Homo sapiens: one gene and its partner. The protein of the gene in region 2 interacts with the protein of the main gene of each other region in a biochemical or structural test. Each region holds a gene or a part of one and is shown on either strand. Other genes may lie near its edges.

The links.
Region 1: the proteins of GNG11 (region 2) and GNB1 form a complex in vitro, tested with the Homo sapiens proteins (3 studies listed by BioGRID).

What each region holds. Positions count from the first base shown.
Region 1 is NC_000001.11:1,881,088-1,884,587, forward strand, and holds part of GNB1 (guanine nucleotide-binding protein G(I)/G(S)/G(T) subunit beta-1), read right to left. Parts: intron 1-3,500. UniProt on the Homo sapiens protein: Guanine nucleotide-binding proteins (G proteins) are involved as a modulator or transducer in various transmembrane signaling systems.
Region 2 is NC_000007.14:93,924,735-93,926,922, forward strand, and holds part of GNG11 (guanine nucleotide-binding protein G(I)/G(S)/G(O) subunit gamma-11 precursor), read left to right. Parts: intron 1-1,356; coding exon 1,357-1,482; 3' UTR 1,483-2,188. UniProt on the Homo sapiens protein: Guanine nucleotide-binding proteins (G proteins) are involved as a modulator or transducer in various transmembrane signaling systems.

The sequences.
Region 1 (3,500 bases), on a different chromosome or scaffold from region 2:
CTCGATGCAAAACATGAGAAAGCCTCAGAGACTCCTCAAACCCAACACACACAAACTAAACTCATCATGACCCACAGCCACCCAGAGGGCAGACGGAAACCTGTGGTCATTTACATCTTTCTCGCCACTCTCGCCTTCCCTTCGGTCACCAGGTCTTATCAATCGTCAACCTGGTCCAGACCCCTTTCCTCTTCTACAGCAGCTTTGCCAACTGACTAGAGTCCCCTCCCTCCCCTGAGCACTCTACGCTCAACTACCAAGTAATGATCCCCATCAGATCAATCTCCTTAAAACTCTTTCAGGGCTTCCTGGAGCTCTCGAGGTAAAAGTTCATTTTTTTCTTTTTTTTTGAGTCTCACACTGTCACCCAGGCTAGGGTGATCTTGGGTCACTGCAACCTCCGCCTCCCAGATTCAAGTGATCCTTGTGCCTCAGCCTAATGAGTAGCTGAGAATACAGGTGTGCGCCACCAAGCCTAATTTTTATATGTTTAGTAGAGACAAGGTTTCACCATGTTGGCCAGGCTGGTCTCAAACTCCTGACCTCAAGTGATCCGCCCGCCCTGGCCTCCCAAAGTGGTGGGATTACAGGCATAAGCCACTGTGCCCGGCCTCAAGGTAAAAGCTCTTTATCCAGACTGTAAACCTTTTGGCTTCCAGGTCTAACCACTCTCCTAGCCCTTTGGAACTTCCGTCCCTGGATGTGCTGTGCTCTTATGCGCTTGATAAATAATTACTGAGCACCTGGCACACAGTATTGTGCGGGGTGCTGGAGACAGTGAAGGAGACCAGTTGGTTGCCGGATGAAAAACACACCATCTCATCAGCCTAGGATACACTCCTCCCCTCCATCCCCACCTGCCTGCCAGACAGACTCCAATTCAGGTCTCAAAGCTTTTTTTAATGAGAAGCTGCCACTGAACTCTGGACAGGGTGGTGTCCCTGGGAGCCACAGCCACTGCCCTCCGCTCTGTGCCTGCGTGTCAGGCTCCCTATTAGACCATGAATTCAGCAAGGCCCTGGATCACATGCATTCTACTATGGCTCACAGCCTCAGCACCCAGTAAGGTGCTAAATTGGGGCCAGGCACAGTGGCTCACGCCTGTAATCCTAACACTTTGGGAGGCCAAGGAGTTCAAGAGCGGCATGGGCAACAAGGTGAAACACCATCTCTACTAAGATACAAAAAACATTAGCTAGGCGTGGCGGCATGCACCTGTAATCCCAACTATTTGGGAGGCTGAGGCAGGAGAAGCGCCTGAACCTGGGAGGCGGAGGTTGCAGTGAGCCGAAATCGTGCCACTGCACTCCAGCTGGGTGACAGAGCAAGACTCCAACTCAAAAAAAAAAAAAAAAAAAAAAAAGAGAGAAGGTGCTAAGTCAACATCTGTTAAACAAATCACCATTACAGTTTTTATAAAAACAAGTGGAAAATATTTAATTATTGTCCCTATCAGCAAATCAAGGGACGTCAACAAATTTTGGTGAAATTAAAAAAAAATCTAGCTTCATAAATGGGAGGAGGAGAATTCTCTAAAAAAATGAACATAAATGGGCAGGGCGTGGTGGCTCACGCCTGTAATCCCAGCACTTTGGGAGGCCGAGGCAGGCAGATCACGAGGTCAGGAGTTTGAGACCAGACTGGCCAATATGGTGAAACCCTGTCTCTACTAAAAATACAAAAATCAGCTGGGCATGGTGGCAGGTGCCTGTAACCCCAGCTACTCTGGAGGCTGAGGCAGGAGAATTGTTTGAACCCAGGAGGTGGAGGTTGCAGTGAGCCGAGATCATGTCACTGCACTCCAGCCTGGGTGACAGGGCAAGACTCCGTCTCAAAAAAAAAAAAAGGACATAAACTTACCAGTTTTCAAAATGAGGCATAGTTCAAGATTATTCTACAAAGGTAAAGGAAAGCCTTTAAGAGCAGGTTACTGTGGCTCACATCTATAATCCCAACATTTTGGGAGGCTAAGGCAGGAGGATCACTTGAACCCAGGAGTTGGAGACCAGCCTGTCTCTACAAACAATAAAAAAAATTAGCTGGGCACGGTGGCATGTGCCCGTGGTCCTAGCTACTTGTGAGACTGAGAGAAGAAGATCGTATGAGCCCAGGAGGTCCAGGCTGCAGTGAACCATGATCATACCATCACATTCCACACTCCAGCCTGGGTGACACAGCAAAACCCTGTCCCAAAAAAAAAAAAAAAAGAAAAAGAAAAAAAAACCTTTCAAGAAAAGATAAGGATGTGAGAGATTTAGTAGAAAGTAAGGCAGTAAATAAGTGATAGGGATTTGCAAAGATAGCTAATATGCATGTTCCACACCCTGAATTAATATTCTTCTGGAACCATGGAGAAAAAAAGAAAAATCTCAGTAAACTGTCATCTTATAACATTTGTTAACCTTGCCATAAAAGAAATTTTTACAAAGCAAGGCCATCAGCAACAGAAATAGCTAATCCTTGCACTGAGCTCTGTTATCAGTGCCCACATCAGGACTCATTTAATCCTCACAATGACCCCATGAAGGAGGCTCTAGGAGCCTGTTTCACAGATAAGGACAGACACAGAAGTCCTAACACTGCAGGTGGCCTAAATTAAGGCAGGCTCAGGGAGGACAGAAAGCTCCTGTGGAGTGGAAGGGTAGAAGTTGAACTGATCTTGATTTTCAGTGCGAATAAAAGTCCTAACACTGCAAATCAGCCAGTGAGGCAACAGAGCTGAGCTGGGCTCTAACTCAGACAGTGCCAATCCTTTTGAAAACTACTGAATTTCTCTCACTCCCTAGATTTTAGGAATTATTTTAAAATTCCTATGAGAAATTTTCTGAAACCTATTGTAGACTCTTTTGACATGCTCATCTAATTATAAAGTGTCCGGACTTTTTTTTTTTTTTTTTGACCGAGTTTCACTCTTGTTGCCCAGGCTGCAGTACAATGGCACAATCTCGGCTCACCGCAACCTCCGCCTCCCAGGTTCAAGCGATTCTCTTGCCTCTGCCTCCCGAGTAGCTGAGATTACAGGCATGTGCCACCATGCCCGACTAATTTTTTTTTTTTTTTTGAGATGGAGTTTCCTTCTTGTTGCCCAGGCTGGAGTGCAATGGCACGATCTCGGCTCACTGCAACCTCAGCCTCCCGAGTAGCTGGAATTACAGGCATGCATCACCATGCCTGGGTAATTTTTTGTATTTTTAGTAGAGATGGGGTTTCTCCATGTTGGCCAGGCTGATCCACCCTCCTCGGCCTCCCAAAGTGCTGGAATTACAGGCGTGAGCCACCGCGTCTGGGCTAATTTTGTATTTTCAGTAGAGACAGGGTTTCTCCATGTTGGTCAGGCTGGTCTTGAACTCCCAACCTCAGGTGATCCGCTCACCTTGGCCTCCCAAAGTGTTGGGTTTACAGGCATGAGCCACCACACCCAGCCCAGAATTTTTTAAGCTTTATTAACTACAACACTCGGCAGAAGTTGAGTGTCTGTAATCAACATAGGGAATATATTT
Region 2 (2,188 bases):
AGTTAAAAATTATATTCATTTTGGGATACACATGCAAACATGTTTTAGTAGTAACCGTTAAAACAGTTTGAGGTTACTAATTTAGATTACTAATTCAATGGGAACATTTGCCCAGTTTTCATAGGTCTCCATTTAAATTTGCTGGTGCGGCCTGGCGCGGTGTCCCACGCCTGTAATCCCAGCACTTTGGGAGGCCAAGGCGGGCGGATCACGAGGTCAGGAGATCAAGACCATGCTGGCTAACGTGGTGAAACCCCGTCTCTACTAAAAATACAAAAAATTAGCCAGGCGTGGTGGTGGGCGCCTGTAGTCCCAGCTACTTGGGAGGCTGAGGCAGGAGAATGGCTAGAATCCGGGAGGCGGAGCTTGCAGTGAGCCGAGATCCTGCCACTGCACTCCAGCCTGGGCAATAGAGCAAGACTCCATCTCAAAAAGAAATAAATAATTAAATTAAATTAAATTTGCTGGTACTTCTGTAATTTTTACTTTAAATTTCTTACTAGCAATACAGGCCTTCATTAAAACCCTAATTTCTTTTCTTTTGTTTTTATTCTTTTTTTAATTCATTCTTGCAACCTGTCTTTTAAGGATAGATAGACTTTTTGAAGAAACTCTTCTTTTAAGAATAGACTTTTTGAAGACACTATTCAATTTTTTCTCCATCTCAGAAAAAAATTTATTCTCAGATAAGCCTAATAAGTCTCAGATAAGTCTTTTATTATGATCATTGCCCTCATGCAGCAGGAAGAAATTCTGAGGAGCAACACAGAGTGCGATATTTGGACAATTCCAATCTTTCCAGAATCAGGCTTTTTCCAAAGCTTCTATCATTTCGTGAAATTTCAGAACATGGCACACACCCATAAGTGAGAATCGTGGCATTACACACCCCAAAACATTTGGGGATTATCTACTACTGCACCTGCTCACTAGCATGGAAAATTAAAATAAGAGTATATTTCAGTTCCTAAAATATTGTAGACATGGCATAATTGTATTTTAGCAGAGGAAGGAAATCATATGAGACACAATGGAAAAAAACTGCTGGAGATGATTTATTTAATGCAGTGACTTTCAAACATTTTTTAATTTGACCAACGACCAACAGTAAGAAATATATTTTACATAGGTTGCATCATAGGTATAGTAATAGAATAAAAATATTAGAGTGCAGAGCCCAGATTTTATATATGTATTATATATATAATATATACACACACACATGCACATATATATGTAAATGTAAAAAAATGTTTAAAAACTTATTGTATTCAATTATACTTATTTCATTAAGGCGTAGGGACAAAGTTTAAACAACCCTAACCTAATGTATTCTCTTTTTTTTCTATACTTAAGGTGTCTAAATGTTCTGAAGAAATAAAGAACTATATTGAAGAACGTTCTGGAGAGGATCCTCTAGTAAAGGGAATTCCAGAAGACAAGAACCCCTTTAAAGAAAAAGGCAGCTGTGTTATTTCATAAATAACTTGGGAGAAACTGCATCCTAAGTGGAAGAACTAGTTTGTTTTAGTTTTCCCAGATAAAACCAACATGCTTTTTAAGGAAGGAAGAATGAAATTAAAAGGAGACTTTCTTAAGCACCATATAGATAGGGTTATGTATAAAAGCATATGTGCTACTCATCTTTGCTCACTATGCAGTCTTTTTTAAGAGAGCAGAGAGTATCAGATGTACAATTATGGAAATAAGAACATTACTTGAGCATGACACTTCTTTCAGTATATTGCTTGATGCTTCAAATAAAGTTTTGTCTTGGGAAGATGAGTGTTGGTGATTTAAGAAGACACTTTTCATGCATTAACTTTTATATTTCTCCCCGTAATCTTTTGGGTGTGGAGTATGATTGGGTTTGGAATATGATTCAGAAGGTTAGGTGGTTCGACAGATCACATCTCCAAACCCTGCGTCAATGGTTTAGAGTGCTGAGTTCTGACCTCTGGAACGTGTTTGATCTAACCTTAACTATTAAGAAACTGAGCAGGTAGAATTCCTATAACATTGACAGAAGTCAGATTATCTGAGTCAGGAACAAGGCCAAGCCACATCTATGTTAGTACTTCCCTAGTTTATCATCATTTAGATCTTCTTAATAGTGTTCCTGTAGTAGTAGCCTTGAAGAAAATACTGAGTTGGGGTTCAGGAAGAGTGCCCTGCCTCTCTGCCGTGT